2 separate regions of the Homo sapiens genome follow, and region 2 is linked to region 1. The links come from fine-mapping of genetic effects on gene expression. A gene starts in region 1. The other region holds a variant in brackets. All regions are shown on one strand. Distances are from middle to middle. Region 1 holds the start of MARF1 (meiosis regulator and mRNA stability factor 1). Region 2 overlaps MARF1 (meiosis regulator and mRNA stability factor 1).

The links.
Region 2: its variant is fine-mapped to the expression of MARF1 in testis (GTEx, PIP 0.92).

What each region holds. Positions count from the first base shown.
Region 1 is chr16:15,639,163-15,647,496 of GRCh38, reverse strand. It overlaps MARF1 (meiosis regulator and mRNA stability factor 1), which reads left to right and starts at 4,343. Exons shown (of 27, transcript NM_014647.4): 1 at 4,343-4,479; 2 at 8,206-8,334. The coding sequence starts at 8,264. MIR484 (microRNA 484) reads right to left here and starts at 4,203; the gene lies at 4,125-4,203. It also overlaps a transcript of NDE1 not described here.
Region 2 is chr16:15,590,361-15,598,692 of GRCh38, reverse strand. MARF1 (meiosis regulator and mRNA stability factor 1) reads left to right here. Exons shown (of 27, transcript NM_014647.4): 27 at 1,756-4,306. The coding sequence ends at 2,000. Among named protein-coding and RNA genes, the nearest start is that of MIR6506, 17 kb to the left of the region's middle. RefSeq lists enhancers at 7,327-7,621, 6,968-8,167. The variant GTTTC/C (reference allele first, on the strand shown) is at 5,037.

The DNA.
Region 1 (8,334 bases):
TGAACCACAGGTGATGAACCACAGGAAAGCATTAAATTGTATCCATGTTAAAGATAAGAAAATAAAGGTGCAGGAAGTTAATTGAGTTGTCCGAGGTCTTACAACTAGTAATTAACAAATCAGGCTTCAGAGCTGGCTCTGACTCCTAAACCCTCCTTCTTCAGCACTATGCTAGAGGCAAAGAGATCTTAGCTATTACAGGATCTCCCACCCCATCTTGCCTTCCTGCTATCCTACAACAGCCTTTCTCAAATTCTACTTTGAACTCCTTGCTAATTCCTAAAAACTGCTTAGAGGCACAAAGGGGAACCCCACCACCTATCAACAGGTTTAAGGAAAGTACCAAATGTCTTTCAGGAAACTTCCCAAACATTAATGAATCATTTACATGCTGCTTCACACTTTACTACGTCTGATGCCTTCCCCCTTGGAATTTTATTTTATTTCGAGACAGAGTTTCACTCTGTTGCCCAGGCTAGAGTGCAGTGCTGCAATCTCGGCTCACTGCAACCTCCACCTCCCGGGTTCAAGCGATTCTCCTGCCTCAGCCTTTCGACTAGCTGGGATTACAGGTGTTCACCACCATGCCCACCTAATTTTTCTATTTTAGTAGAGGCAGGGTTTCACCATGTTGGCCAGGCTGGTTTTGAACTCCTGACCTCAAGTGCTCCACCCGCCTCAGCCTCCAAAAGTGCTGGGATTACAGGCATGAGCCACCACACCAAGCCTCCCCTTAGGAATTTTATTACTTATTTACTTATTCATTAAGATGGAATCTCACTCTGTCGCCCAGGCTAGAGTGCAGTGGTGCGATCTCGGCTCATTGTAACCTCCACCTTCCAGTTCAAGCGATTCTCCTGCCTCAGCCTACCAAGTAGCTGGTATTAACCCCCCTTGGATTTTTTTTTTCTTTTTTTTGACGGAGTCTCGTTCTGTTGCCCAGGCTGGAGTGCAGTGGCACGATCTCGGCTCACCGCAACCTCTTCCTCCTGGGTTCAAGCGATTCTCCTGCCTCAGATTCCTGAGTAGCTGGGATTTCAGGTGTGCACCACCACGTCCAGCTAATTTTGTAGTTTTAGTAGACACAGGGTTTCACCATGTTGGTTTGGCCAGGCTGGTCTCGAACTCCTGACCTCAAGTGATCCACCTGCCTCGGCCTCCCAAAGTGCTGGGATTACAGGCGTGAGCCACTGCGCCTGGCCCCCCTCGGAATTTTATTTGGCCCTAACCACTCTGTGACGTTTCTGGACAGGAACTAATCACCTCAGCTTACAGAGAAACCGAAGCACAAACTGATGAGGTACTGGTGTTGCCTAAATGGCTTTGATCAAGGTATTTAAACTAGTTGGTTCTCAATTTCCCAAATTTTCCATAAAGAAAAAAGAGAGGGCATTGAAATAATAATCCTTAAAGTCCTATTTGGGAACAACATTTAGGGAAATAGGTTTGTCATTGGGTAAAACCTTAAAAACATTTAAAATGTTTTTCTTGTTCTTTTTAAATTCAATTTGTTTTCCTTGTAGCTTTGGACTATGGCTGAGCAGATAACTCAATTTAACTTCCTTAGGTCCTTCCATGATCATTTATTAATTCAAACCACTGAACCTAATACAGGTAGAAGATTGGTTTCTGGGGAGAAACTCCTTTAATAACAGCTTGGTTAGTTGAAAAGCTGAATTGCATGTAAAGTAGCTACTTAAATAGCACACAAAAAAGTCTTTCGGTTTTCATACATGTGAAGACTATAATTTGGACAAGGGAAAAACTGAAAGTTACTTGTACTCTCTAAAGTTTTCCCAGCAAAGAAACAGGAATACAATTAATAGAGGATACATACTTAAAATATATCTTAAGAGAAAATTTATGTATTTTGATTCATAATTGTCTCCTAAGGCCTGGTATACTTTGCTTAGGCTCCTAGTCTTTAGAAAGCAGCAATAAAATTACATTTCTTTTAAAAGTATTTGTAATTCAGACTTTTATTAGCCTTCCACTTAATACGACTGTTTTGTTTTTAAAAATTTTTTTAATAGAGACAAGTGTCACACCATGTTGCTCAGGCTGGTTTTAAACACCAAGCCTCAAGGGGTCCTCCTGTCTCAGCCTCCCAAAGTGCTGGGATTACGACATGAGTCACCATGCCCCGCCCATTTTCAATCACTACATTTACTTGTTGTGACTAGTTACAGCTTTGGACTTGAAAGAATGCCAAGCTAAGTCAAACAAAATGTGTCTGCTTGGTAAAAAGGAATCTAAAAGAAAAATATACATATAAAGAAAATGTGGTCAAGCTCGTTGGCTCAGCCCTGTAATCCTAAAGAGGCCGAGGCGGGAGGATCACTTGAGGCTAGGAGTTCGAGACCAGCCTGGCCAACATGGCAATATCCCGTCTCTACTAAAAACACAAAAATTAGCCAGGCATGGTGGTGGGCGCCTGTAATCCTAGCTACTCAGGAGGCTGAGGCATGAGAATCGGTTGAACCCGGGAGGTGGAGGCTGCAGTGAGCCAAGATCCTGCCACTGCACTCCAGCCTGGGCAATGAAGCAAGACTTTGTCTCAAAAAAAAAAAAAAAAAAAGTAAAAAGGAAATGTGTCTGCATTCTTTGATGTTTTCTGGCTAAAAACTATTTTTTAAAAAAAGCAATTAGAAACCTACAATTACCTTGTTTCTTAAGATTTTTAGTTAATATGGCTTGTGTTGAAACATACTCAACTGAAATAAAATGGGGAAAAAACACCTCTGAAGAGTAGCGTATTTGTTTGGTACTTTGAAAAAAGCCAAAACGCTAGAAACGGGTTTTTCATCTATTCTAATCTCCACTTGGAAAATACTACCTATACACAGACATAATGAAGATTTTTTTCTTTTTCTTTCTTTTCTAAATAGTGATAGGGTTTCACCGTTTCCCAGTCTAGTCTCAAATTTGTAGGCTCAAGAGATCCTCCCTCCGTAGCCTCTCAAAGTATTGGGAATACAGGCCTGAGCCACTGCGCCCAGCCCACAGTCAAGATTTAGTCAGCAGTAATAAATACCTACGCAGGGAGAGGATGTGTGCTTGTCATCTGCCTTCTGGAAAATTAAATACAGGCACAAAGGATTCTTCAGCTACATGTCTGATCCTGCCCTCCACAATACCCGTCTACAGGGATGTTTACAGGGATGTGTTAATCCCCACGTAATGGGGATTGCCTATTGAAATAACCTCCCAGTAAGGATTTTTTTGGGCAAAATATTCTCGTTTGGCAATTTCGACTTACTGATTCTTTTGCAAAGTCAACTTGTTTCTGGGCAAACTTTAAAAATAAACTCCTAAGGTAGCATTTAGCTAGCAGCTAGCACATCCTAAATCGTGTCTAGATTTAACTTACACAATATGTGCTTTGCTTTTTTCCTAATTTGCAACAGAAAATAGTAATCAGCTGGTAGTTTCAGAAATCACCCTTTTGCTGAGTCTTAAATTTTTTTTTATTCCAGGGAAACGTGAAGATTGTGGGGCGCTATTTTTTTTTTTAAAGCAAACCACACAGCATATCTGGCCACCTAAAACACAAAGTGTTTGAAACTAACCGTAAGATTTCCTTTCTGCTCGCCCAACCTGTCACTGGAAACGCAGTATTCATTTGTAACCAGCTTTGGAGCAGGGCTTTTAAAAATAACGTTTTCTTGCTAAAGTCCCCAAAAATCTCTTGATTCTTGGTGGCAATGTCCAGTTGAGTCTTTGCACACACTGTATTTTTGCCAACTGGGTCGCAACTTTGCGAGAACTCCGGGGGACCTCGTAGGAAGCCAGGTTGGCAGTTATTTTTTTCTCCACTTGCCACTAGGTTGCACTAGATTTAGGATGCTGGGGAATATGCGCCATTTAATTTTTAAAAATAAAGTAGGACCATCACGTGACGAGACCCGAGAGAGGAAAAAAAAAAAGCCGAAGGGACAGGGTTTTTCATTGAAATCCCGTTCAAATCGCCTTCCCTCCAAAGCCTGAAAGAGCTGAATTCTATTAAATCCTGGTTGGCAGGTTTTTTCCTCGGGTCCACGTCACGAGCTCATTCTCCGCTTCAAGGTTCCTTTCGACTCCACAACGTGAAGCCAGGGGGAAGGCCTCCTTAAACTGGGGGTTTTCGCCAAAAAAGCCAGGGTCACCCCCCGGGAAAGTCCCTATTTAGGGGTTTATCGGGAGGGGACTGAGCCTGACGAGGCTGCAGGGCCGCGAGGCCCCGCCCCCCCCGGGGTTCCCAGCATGCCCCGCGCGGACAGGACGCGGCGGCGGAGGCGGGGCGAGGAAGGGGCGGGGCGAAGAGGAGAGAAGGGCGTCGGTTTTGCGACAGGGGCGGTGCGGTGCGGAAGCGGAAGTGAAGGGTGCGCTTGGCGGCGGCGGCGGGAGCTGCGGAGTCGGGAATCAAAACAAAGGGCCTGGGGGGGGCGGGGGGAAGGCGGCGGGGCCGGAATGTGAGCGGAGGTGGAGCCGGCGGCAGAGGTGAGTTTGCAGACAGTCCTGCGACCAGACCCCGGCAGGCTCTGCTCCGAGGCCAGCGGGGCGGGACGGAGGACAGTGTCCCCTCTTTCCCCGCCTATTGCTGGTGGGATGGTGGTGGAGAGGGGAGGTTAGCTAACTGGGACGCGCCAGTTGGGCCCCCCACGAAAGAGTTGGCTTGTCTCCCTTTCGGGTCCATTCACTACTGTCACTGTTGGCGCCGCTGTTCCCCTTCGAGGGCATTTGGCTCCCCGCCCGCCCCTGTCTGACCCCTGGTGGGGCCCTCCAGGAGTGAAGTGCACAGCTGGAAGGTTAAGAGAGAAGGAAAGGGGCGGGTGTTTTTGCAACACACTCCCCCCTCCCCGGCCGTTTTGCATTCTCCTCGGCCTTTTAGCAACACATAGGGTGTAGTCTCAGGGTTGACAATGTCTAGGGCTTCAGCCACTCTCACTAGTAGTTGTAACGCGACCTCGTGATACACCTTTTAGAGTTTCTCAAGCACCTTTCCGGTATTACCAAGAGCTGTCCAATTGCATTTGTGTCTTTTGGACTTCTCTGAGCGGTAAATATTCTTCTCTTTTGCATATCGGTGTATTGAAACCTAAACTGTTTTCCTATTTATTAAGCTTTATTCGTTCAACAGTTATTTATTAAAATATGCCAGGCATTGTACTAAGGACAGGAGTTGGAATAGTGGATAAGAAAACATAGTCTCTGCTGTCATGGAGTTTATAGCCTAATGGGGGAGAAAGATAATAAAATAAGCTAAAAAGGCCGTTTTGGACAGAAGAGCTATGGGGGAGAAAACGGTAATGGGATGGGGTGGTGTGGGGTCAAAGACTAGATTGGGTGCTAAGGAAACAACATTTGCTAAATGTTCCCCGTGGATTACCTCATGTAATCCAAACAACGGCCTTGTAAGGTGGTTTCTATTATTATCACACCCATTTTAGAGATGGGATCTGAGGTTCAGAGAGGTTGTGAGTTGTCCAAAGCTGCACCGCAGTCAAATTGGAGACCAAAATGCAGACAGTCGACAGAGCCTATGCTCTCCTCATTGAATTGGTCAAAAGACTTGAAGAGAGTGACAGAAAGGAGACTGTCGCTCAAGTCAAACAGAACCTGCTTTTGGCTACCTAAGTTGCTTCGTGGATGGTATTTGGGAAGTTTTCAGGGTGCAGGCACCTGAAAGTTTTTACTTTTAATCGCTTGTATTGAGCAGTATTGAAGGCACCTTGATGTAGTGGAAAGGGGTGAACAAGCCTAATCTTGTGTCAGGCTCGCTACAAAACTTCATTAAGTTTCTTTTTCTCTCTCTGCAAAAATGTAGCTAATTTCTCCCCTGTCTATTTCACAGGATTATTGCAAAAATTATATAAGAGGATCCCACCGTCTGGGTTTTTTTCATCATTATATTCCTTGTGCCAAGCACAGGCCTGCTGCATAGTAGATACTAAGTAAATATTTGCTGAATGAAGACATAAGTAATGTTAAGTGAAAATACTTTATAAACTAGATTATACTGTGAATGTTAGCTCACTTTCAGGATTTGGCTTTGAAGAAGTTTGAGAGAATGTTTAAGTTATGAACACTGTGAATATCACAGATTCTTACGATTTTGAGAGGAGTTTTTTGGGGGACATAAAACCTGTATCTAATAGGAAAGACAAGAATCGTAATTTACTATCAGTGGTAGCAGTTAAATCCATCTCCAAATTAACCACTCCCAATAGTGTGTAGTAGGTAATGTTTACTTTGTATTTACAGAGTAGGGAGCATTTTGGTTGGCACAAGAGATACAGTGGTGAAAATAGACAGTGGGGTTCATTTATCTAATTTTTTTTTTCTCTGTAATGCAGTGGCGGGGAGAAATTAGCCACATTTTGCATAGGAGGAAACAGAAACTTGAAAACAAAAATTTTTTTAGAGATGGAATCTCACTCTGTTGCCCACGCTGAAGGGCCAGTGGCACAATATAGTTCACTGTAGCCTCAAATTCTTGGGCTCAAGAGATCCTCCTACCTCAGTCTCTCTAGTAGCTGGGACTAGGCGCATGCTGCCACACTATGCTAATTTTTTGAACTTTATTTTATTTTAGAGCTGTGATCTTGCTATATTGCCCAGGCTGACAAAAGAGCCACGTAGTAAATATAGGCTTTGTGGGCCATACAGTCTCTTTGCAGAGACTCTCTTTGCAACTCTGCAATTGGAATGCAAAAGCAGTCATAGGCAGTATTTAAGTGAATGAGTGTGTCTGTGTCCCAATTAAACTTTATTTATGGACACTGACATTTTAATTTCATGTAATTTTGTTTGTTGGTTTTTGAGACAGGGTCTCACTCCGTCGCCCAGGCTGCAGTGCAGTGGTGCAATCACAGCTCACTGCAGCCTTGACTACGCAGTCTTAGGTGATTCTTCCACCATAGCCTCCTGAGTAGATGGGGCTACAGGCATGCACCACCACGCTCAGCTAATTTTTTGTAGCCATGGGGTTTTGCCATGTTGCCCAGGCTGGTTGGGAACTCCTGGGCTCAAGCAATCCACCCACCTTGGCCTCCCAAAGTGCTGGGATTGCAGGCCTGAGCCACGGTGCCTCGCTTGCATTTATTGTTAAGACCTGTAAGAGTGTTGTTGCTCTGGCGTAGATATAACACATCTGCGACTTGAGATTTTTCTATCAGTTAGATTTTTGGTGGTATATCAGATTGCACTTTCATCATTAGTAAACTAAGAAATTGGTTCAATTTGTTCTGTAGCAAATCAAATTCAAAGTCCACAGAGGCCACTTAGTTTGGACTTTTCATGCTCAGATCAAGAAACCAGTGCAAGAAGTTGCTCTTAAGTCAATTTTAAAATCTTACATATAGTTGTCAATGAGGATGTGGTGGTGGCTCTTTTACTCAGATTAGATGCTCTCTTCTGTTAACTTTTGACTTTCCTGAGCAGCATCTTTAGGGAGAGAGAGCCGAAAAGAATTCAGAAAAACTGTAGAAAAAATTGATTCCAGCCAAGTGAGGAGGTGAAGTCTCACTCTGGAATATGCAAGTTTCCAAGATATGGCTACCTCTCTCAAACATGGTTACATGTGGAAAGGAAACAAGACTCATGGAGAGTTCATTTTTTATTTGAAGAGCTATGAAACATGAAGAATGGCAGATTATAGATTTTTTAAGAAATCAGGTTGTTGCAGTTAGATTTTAAGCATAAACAGTCAACCAAGTTTACCAAATTTTATTAACCCGTAATATGCTCTGATATTTTGTGTTTTTTTCTTTCTTTATTTTATTATTATTATTTTGTTTGTTAAGATTTGAATTGTTGGCCGGGCGCAGTGGCTAATGCCTGTAATCCCAGCACTTTGGGAGGCCGAGGAGGGTGGATCACTTGAGGTCAGGAGTTCAAGACCAGCCTGGCCAACTTGGTGAAACCCCATCTCTACTAAAAATATAAAAATTAGCCAGGCATAGTGACAGGCTCCTGTAGTCCCAGCTACTCTGGAGGCTGAGGCAGAAAAATCGCTTGAACCCGGGAGACGGAGGTTGCAGTGAGCTGAGATCGTACCACTGCATGCCAGCCTGGGCGACAGAGCGAGACTTCCTCTTGAAACAAAGATTTGAATTGTTGAGAGCCATAGGACTGTAAATATAGCTGTGGTTTCACATTTTAGTATGTTGTAAAATTTGTACTTATGCAAGGAAATAACACTGAAATCTTACTCATTCTTAACAGGGTGGAAGAATGAAAGAAAAGAAAGATGAAAGGATGTTGAATCACTTTGCATGGCTGTATGATGGAAGGAAACGGAACTGAGAACTCCTGCAGTAGAACACGTGGATGGCTTCAACAAGATAATGATGC
Region 2 (8,332 bases), 49 kb after region 1:
GCAGAATGGGATGCACAGCCTGAGGTTGCCTGGCGAGCATCAGGCAAGGGCGATTTGGCAGCTCTGGAGGGCTGGTGGCTCGGGGCTGTGGGCGAGTCCACAGGGGTGGGTGGGGCCTCCTGGGCTTCTGCTCTCCCAGACTTTGTGAAGGTTCAGCTGCTCTCAGGCACACCTGTCACCAGATGTACACGTCACCCATGGTGGGGGTCCAGAGGGCCCAAGGGCTTTATAAAGGGGTGAATGGAGGGAGGTGTCTGTGGCTGGAGCCCCGGACTCTGCCCAGTGATATAACAGACAGGAAGCTGAGCACACTGAGTCCCAGCCTAGTGCAGGCATTGGCACTGACCCTGTGCTCAGGGCTGACAGACACCATCACATTTAACTCTTACCACGGCTCCAGGTGAGAGCCGTGGAATAAAGGCAGCTGCTTTATTCCACAGGCTGCGTGACTAAGGCACAGCTGGTGCCGTCACTAGAGAGGCAGTGGCCCCGGGCTGCTGGGCTAGCAAGGGCAGAGCCGGCATTGGAACCCAAGCCCTCTTGTCCTGCGGTGTCTCCTGGCCTCTGGAGAGGATGGCCCATCTGCCCTGTACAGATCCCTCCCTGCTCTTCATCTGTTGGAACCCAACTCCTCCCCACTGCTGGTGCTGCTTTCCAGGTCACCAGGAACAACCCGTGGACTCCTGGCTTGGCTTTTACCATCTTGGTTGTTCTTGGCAGCGTTCAGCACTGTTGCCCAGGAAAAGAACTGAGGCTGTTGACTTGGAAAATAGGAGATGGGGAAGTAACTGCCTGCGGATAGAACCAGCCTGTGCAGTCAGACCTAGACCATGCCCTGCTCCTGTGCAGTGCCCCCCTAGGGTTGGTGGCACATTGATGTTAGCTCGTTTGTGGGGTTGTGGCCTTTGTGCCTTCAGTCTGGGCAAGTTCAACTGCATGCACCGGACAAGAGAGGAAAATAATTAAAACACTGTGGGCAGTTCTGTCAGCCGCTCTTCTCTTGAGGGTCAGCCTAGGCAGGGAGCTGGCTCTGCTGTCCCCTCTGCCACTCTCACCTTCCATGGGCCTTTGGGAGCAGGAGCCCTGTGCCCTATGCAGTGGGAGTCTAAGGCATAATGATGCATCTCTTTCAAGCAGCGTGGCCCTGTGTGTAGAGCAGGTGAATTACATGTGGCTCAGCCACAGAAATGGCAGTCCAGAAGCACTGTGGGAAAGCTGGCTGTGCTCAACTTCCTGGGTTCTGAGGGTAATTCTCACTCTGCGTAGTCCTTCCTTATCCCCGGTAATAGACCCATGGGGAGCATAGGTCCTCTCTAAATGGAGCAGGCCAGGAGCTCCCTGACACCCAGATGCTCCGACCCCACCCCCTACCACCCACGGCCTCCCGCCTCAGGAAGTCTCTAAGTCGTGGATAGCTTTATGGGTCCTTAATATCTGGCAGGCAGAATGAATGGGCAGAGAATCCAAAATGGAAAAACAAAAAGTTTTAACCTTTGCTCATTCATTTATAGCTCAAAATAGAGATCTTTCCAACTTTGTAATCCAGTGGGAGAGGTGGGATGCAGTTTATAGATACTTGATTTCTGTGCCAAGTTCACTGGCCACACAACTCATATGTAAACTGTGGCATAGATGTAGCATTTAGAAGCTTTTTATTACTATTATTATCTTTTGAGAAAATATGAGCAAGGAAGAGAAAACCCACACTTCTTACAGTTCCTGGATCTGAATCTGTTTGCTTTTCTGTGTTTACAGAAATTATGATTTTAAACCAAGAAGAAAAAATGGAGATTCCAATACCAGGAAAGAGCAAAACTCTGACCTCTGACTCCAGCTCGTCCTGCATCTCAGCAGCTGTCCCCGTGCCTCCCTGCCCCTCCTCGGAAACCTCCGAGTCACTGCTCAGCAAGGACCCCGTGGAAAGCCCGGCCAAAAAGCAACCCAAAAATAGAGTCAAATTGGCAGCCAACTTTTCCTTAGCACCTATAACCAAGCTTTAACTCCCATTTGGAATATAGAATTAGGATGGGAAAACACTGTCTGATTCTGCACACAAAAGTGGGTTTCAAAAATACATCCTTTTCTGTGTCATGAAAACCCCCCGAAGCCATTGACTTCATCTTACCTGTGTTCTATCATGTTTTTCTTTTCCATTGAACACAGCTTTGAGCTGAAGTCTTTCTTTTCTTCTTCCTTTTTCTTTCTTTTTTCAATTATTTGAAGAACTTGTGGCATTTGTTAAAGAATCCTTAATATATTTTACCAAATTTTTAGTAACTATTATGAAATACAATGGTGTTCCAAAAGAAGAAAGCACTAAAAACTCAACTAGCAGGAAGCGGTTTTGCTTCCATTGAGCCACGTCGGTGGTGTCATCCTACATGTAGCATAATAGAGTCTCTCAGCCTTTGCTTACTGGTGTTTCCGACAGTATTAACCCAGTGCGTGGCATGTCTTTGAAGCAAAGCCTGTCCCGCTAGCCTGTGTGTTCACACACCAAAGGAGAAGGGTAGGCGAGGGGTTCGGAGTGTATTTTCAGGTTGGAATGTGAAGGTTCCTGGCTTCCATGTGACTTGTAAGTGTGCCTTGTTTTTTATTTAAACTATGTCTGTAGTTGACAAAAGTGGCTTCATCACAAATTTTTTTAAACGTTTCTACTTTGGGGTTCCATTTAGGAGCTTTCTAGAAAGTTGAGGATGTTTGAAGCTTCCCTTCTGTGTTCCAGTTTGATATGGGTTAGGTTAAGGAAAAGGAGATGGTCTCGATGTCATGGATTTAAAGTCAGCATTTGGATTACAACACACATTATTGTGTGTCGAGAGGCAGCATTGGAAAGAGCCTGATTTTCTAAAATATGCATCAAGTGCATAAATTACAAATCAGAGCTGAGTGGGGAGGTGCTTCAGCAGCAGCGGGATCAATACGATTTCCACTGGGAAGAGACAGGAATTCTACCTACACATAGGAAGGCCAAGGTTGATCCACTTAACCTTGTTATTGTAATTTTAAAGCTGGTATCGGTAGCTGGGAAGCTTTATGTGTGTGTATGTCAGCTCAGCATCTTTTAATCGTGTCTGATTTTACTCTCGTTACTTCTCGCTGTTGGAAGCATCTCTGGGTTTCTTGTGGCGTCTGGTGTGGAATGGCCTTCCTCTCTAGGTGCCTGAGGTGTCCGCTGACGGGTGGCCTCTCACCCCCCTCTAGAGAAACCTGACATTTACAATGGATTGTATTTGTCCGGCAAAAAAGGCGGATTCATTCATAGAGCAGAAAGAACCTGTTGGCGTAAGGTCTTCCACTAGTTAGATGGTTTCTTTTGGGGAAATGTTTATATTTGGTAACTTCTAGAAAGCCAGAAAATGGACTCTGATTTCATAGCATTTTGATAAAATGCCACAAAATAAGGGCTATAGAGAGATTTTTACAAGTCAGATTTTTTGTTCCCCAAATCTTTTAAATGAAGCCAGTGACTCCCAGTTCTCAACACATGGCCCCAGTCAAGACAGAACACCATGGAAAAAACCCTGTAAGTATTATGGCACTCTCCGAATCCTCCTGAAGGCATTTCCTCTACAGACATAGTGTTACAGGAAGTGAAATGCAAATGTGCAATTTTTTTTAAAGGAGCTTTTAAACAAAGTAATAATAATTGGTGTTGAGAACATCAGTTGCCTTATTCTAAGATTTCATAAGGCTGAGTTTGCACGCTTGGACTTCAGTTCTGCTAGCATGTAAAGAGTGGTGGACTTTAAAACCGTAAGAGGTATCATTACAAGTCACCTGGAACAGACTCAAAGAACAGGTTCTTTGGGCAACAGACAAAGAAGAATCAAGTTCTGTGCTGTCCCGTGAGTGTGTCTGAGTACCATTCACTGGAGTTGCTGCTTAGGTCTGGGACGTGTGTGTGACTCTTAACAATTGCTGTCTGAAAATGAGAGAGAAGACTTCGGAAGCACATTGTGTTCATAATGTACTCCACAATGGCCAGTCCAATTGCTATCTATTTTTTTATCCAGAGGCTTAATTAAATGATGTGGTAAAATGATGTTTGAGCATTAAGACAATGTAATTCTTTATTTCTGGGTGGAAAGATATACCGGATTAAATTTATCTGTTTAAAAAAATGACAAAAGTTATCACCAAAACCCCCTTTCCCATCTTGCACTGTTTGTTTTGGATTGGGTTTGGGGGAAAGAGATGTTTTTCTTAGTTGTCTACTTTGTTTGAACACTTTTGTTGTGGTTCAAGTGCTGTTTTGTGTGTTGGGACCAAACAGTTGTCAATAAACTTTACAAGCGAGCATCTATTTTGAGTTTCCCAAGTGAGTGGTTTTGTCTGTCTGTCTGTCTGTGGGGAGGAATTACAAACCAATACAGTTCTGCCATCTTTCATTTTGGGTCTCCTCAACTTCTCTCCCCTTCTGGAAATAGAATTGTGAGGTGGAGAGTAAATCCGTCTACATCTTAGAGGCCTTTTAAACTCAGCACACGCCGAAGCAGGTGGCTGGATGGTGGGCCCTTCGTCGTCAGGATCCTCCAAGTTTTCCAGCCTTTGTTCCAGCTTATAATTACATGTGGGAAAATACAGTAACCACAAAAACCTTCCAGTTAGAAAACTCTATTAATTCCTAGGCTCTCTCTTCTTGTGAAAGAAATCCAGCGTGCCCGCTGTCTCGTTTTTGGTCACTGCTAAGCATGCTTTTTGAATAAGCCAATTTGGAAAAGAGTTATTCCACAGATACAGTTGTGAAGCCCTCCCATCCCCTGAGACCGCCATTACCCCGTCACCCCTGCCACCAGCACCCTCTGGCAAGAATTTAAAAGGACCCAGAAGAGACTTGAGTAAATTGCTTCTTGATGACATTTTTTTCAAGTTCAGCAATGTTAAAAGCTGCTAAAGACCTTTCCAAACATTTCACGATGGCAAATTTGTGCAGAAAAAGTTGAGTAGCCATCGTGCCCCTTTTGAGCGGCGTCAGGAGGTCTTGTTAGGTGTGGACTGGGGCTGGAACGGTGGCTTTGCATTTATCTTTGTTT[GTTTC/C]CCACCTAGGAAGGTGATTCAGAGGTGGGGGCCTAGAAGACAGCTGTCTGGGGGAGAGCAGACCTGTCCGTAGCAGAGGGGGCTGCGCTGATTGAAGAAGATCTGTTCCCTCTCTGTTCCCTTTGCCAGAAGGAGCGTTGCGCTTTGGGATTCACCTTCACTTTCTAGCTGCTTCCATGGGCAGAGGGTGAGTCATGGCGCAGAAGCCCTCAGCGGCCTCCACCCACCTGCTGTCCCCATTGCTGGGGGGGGGGGCGGTGGGCGGCAAAACTTCCTCAATTCTCCTAGTGTCCCTGGCTGGGCCTTAAACTGACAAAGACATTAATAGGAAAAAAGCAAACAAATTTTACTTCATACCAGTTTTGCGAGAGTCTTCATAAGGAAATGAAGACCCCAGAGAAATGGCTAAGCCTGAGTGGTTTTTTGTTTTGTTTTTTGGTTTTTTGAGACAGTCTCACTCTGTCACCCAGGCTGGAGTGCAGTGGCATAATCTCAGCTCACTGCAACCTCCACCTCCCAGGTTCAAGCGATTGTCCTGTCTCAGCCTCCCGAGTAGCTGGGATTACATATGTGCACCATCACACTGGCAAATTTTTGTATTTTTAGTAGAGATGAGGTTTCACCATGTTGGCCAGGCTAGTTTTGAACTCCTGAGCTCAAGTGATCCTCTGGGCTCAGCCTCCCAAAGTGCTGGAATTACAGGCATGAGCCACCACGCCTGGCTGAGAACGCTTTTTTTTGGGGGGGGGGGGGGCGGGGGGAAAAGGGCTAGAGAGCTTAGAAGGTGCCAAGCCAGAGCACCAAGAGCCAGAACTTTCCTTAGCAAGATGAAGAGAAGAATACACACGTTCCGGGAAGGAACGCCTTGGAAGTGGGGGAGCTGAGGTGCAGAGGAAGAAGGCATTGCAGGGTGGAAGGGGCCGTTCTTAGAGGGAAATCCTGCTCAGTGGCTGGGCTGCTCAGCTCCTCACTCCGCACGAGGTGGTGAACCAACCAGGAGCATCCGCAGGGGAGCAGTACCAGGGCCAGCAGGGAACATATTGGGCCTGCTTGGCACCGTCTCTTCCATCCGCCTCAGGCAGCTCATGTGATGGCCTCCAAAGGCTTCCCAGGTGCAGGGCCTGGGCATGAGGGAACCCCCGCTCCTACCACCCACCTGCCCCCACTGCAGTTTCTGGTATCAGCAAGTGCAGACAAATCCACACTGGGGCTGCAGGGTCGCCGCCCTTGGTATTTCAGCAGCCAGAGTCTGATGCATCAAGGGCAGGTGTGGCAAGAATCAGGAAATACATTTTTTTTTTTTTTGAGACAGAGTCTCACTCTATCGCCCAGACTGGGGTGCAGTGGCACGATCTCGGCTCACTGCAACCTCCTACCGGGTTCAAGCGATTCTCATGCCTCAGCCTCCGAACAGCTGGGATTACAGATGCTGCCACCACACCTGGCTAATTTTTTTTGAGACGGGGTTTTGCCATGTTGCTCTGGCTCGTCTCAAACTCCTGGCCTCAAGTGGTTCACTTGCCTCGGCCTCCCAAAGTGCGGGGATTACAGGCGTAATATAATATAGATATTATATATAGATATAGATATAGATGTCTCTATAATATCTATATATAAATAGATATATCTATTATATATAATAGAGATATATATCTATATATAATATATAGATATCTATATATTATATATAGATATATATCTATATATTATGTATAGATATAATATAGTCACACAGTCAACCATGCCCGGAACCCCCAAGCCCCCACTTTTTTTTTCCGAGATGGAGTCTCACTCTGTTGCCCAGGCTGGAGTGCAATGGTGCGATCTCGGCTCTTTGCAACCTCCGCCTCCTGGTTTCAACCGATTCTCCTGCCTTAGCCTTCCGGGTAGCTGGGATTACAAGCATGTGCCACCACACTTGCTAATTTTTGTATTTTTAGTAGACATGGGGTTTCACCCTGTTTTTTAAATTCTCTAAAAGGAAGAGGACACTTTTTTTGTTGTTGTTGTTGTTGTGTTGTGTTGTGTGTGTGTGTGTGTGTGTGTGTGTGTGTGTGTTTTGAGACAAAGTCTTGCTGTGTCTCCAGACTGGAGTGCAGTGGCGCAATCTCGGCTCACTGCAACCTCTGCCTCCCAGGTTCAAGCGATTCTCCTGCCTCAGCCTCCCAAGTAGCTGGGACCACAGGCGCCCACCACCATGCCCAGGTAATTTTTTTGTATTTTTAGTACAGATGGGTTTTCACCATGTTAGCCAGGATGGTCTCAATCTCCTGATCTCGTGATTTGCCCGCCTCGGCCTCCCAAAGTGCTGGGATTACAGGCGTGAGCCACCGTGTCCAGCCCTGTTTGCTTTTAAATGGGAGAGACCTGTTTAAATCCCTCCGATGGGAAGAGAAAGAACAATTGGGGCTACAGTGGTGGGGAGGGAGGGAGATGAATGATGACTCTGTCACTAACAACCCCTGGGACCGTGGGCAGTGGATTTACTGCCACTTCCTCATCTGTAAAGTGAGAAGTGATAACAGGATCTGACTCACTGTTTCAAGTGTTTATTCTGCCTCCGCTTGCAACCTCTTGCAACCTCCGCTTGAAAAGGGTAATGGATTTACTGCTACTTCCTCATCTGTAAAGTGAGAAGTAATAACAGGATCTGACTCATCAGGCTGATGTGAGGAGGGAACCAGCCAGTGTGAGCACATTGCTCAAGGCATAGAGATAAGCTACAATAAATGTTATTCCCATTATCAACCTCCTCCATGGCTTCTAAAAGGAGCAAGTCTAGGTGTGCAGGACCCCACAGTCTGCAAGGTTTCCCAGCTTGGAAGGTGGCCCTGGTAATCTGGAAGCGTCTGTGACAGCTTAAATAAATTGGATTTTTTAATGTTTTCTTTTTTTAAAAAAATCAGTAGGAATTACAGGAACATACAGTAGGTGTACCCAGAGCTTAGCGGAAGTACCAGAGGCAGGATTTTGATGAGGGTTTGATCTCCTCTGGTTCGTTGGATCTGTGAGTGACTGCTGTATAACTGGCCTGAGGTCAGACCTCGCTGACCCCCCCACTCCCCTCTCCCCTTTTTTTTTGAGATGGAGTCTCGCTCTGTCGCCCAGGCTGGAGTGCAGTGGCACAATCTCTGCTCACCGCAAGCTCTGCTCACTGCAAGCTCCGCCTCCCGGGTTCACGCCATTTTCCTGCCTCAGCCTCCTGAGTAGCTGGGACTACAGGCGTCCACCACCACGCCCGGCTAATTTTTTGTATTTGTAGTAGAGATGGGGTTTCACCGTGTTAGCCAGG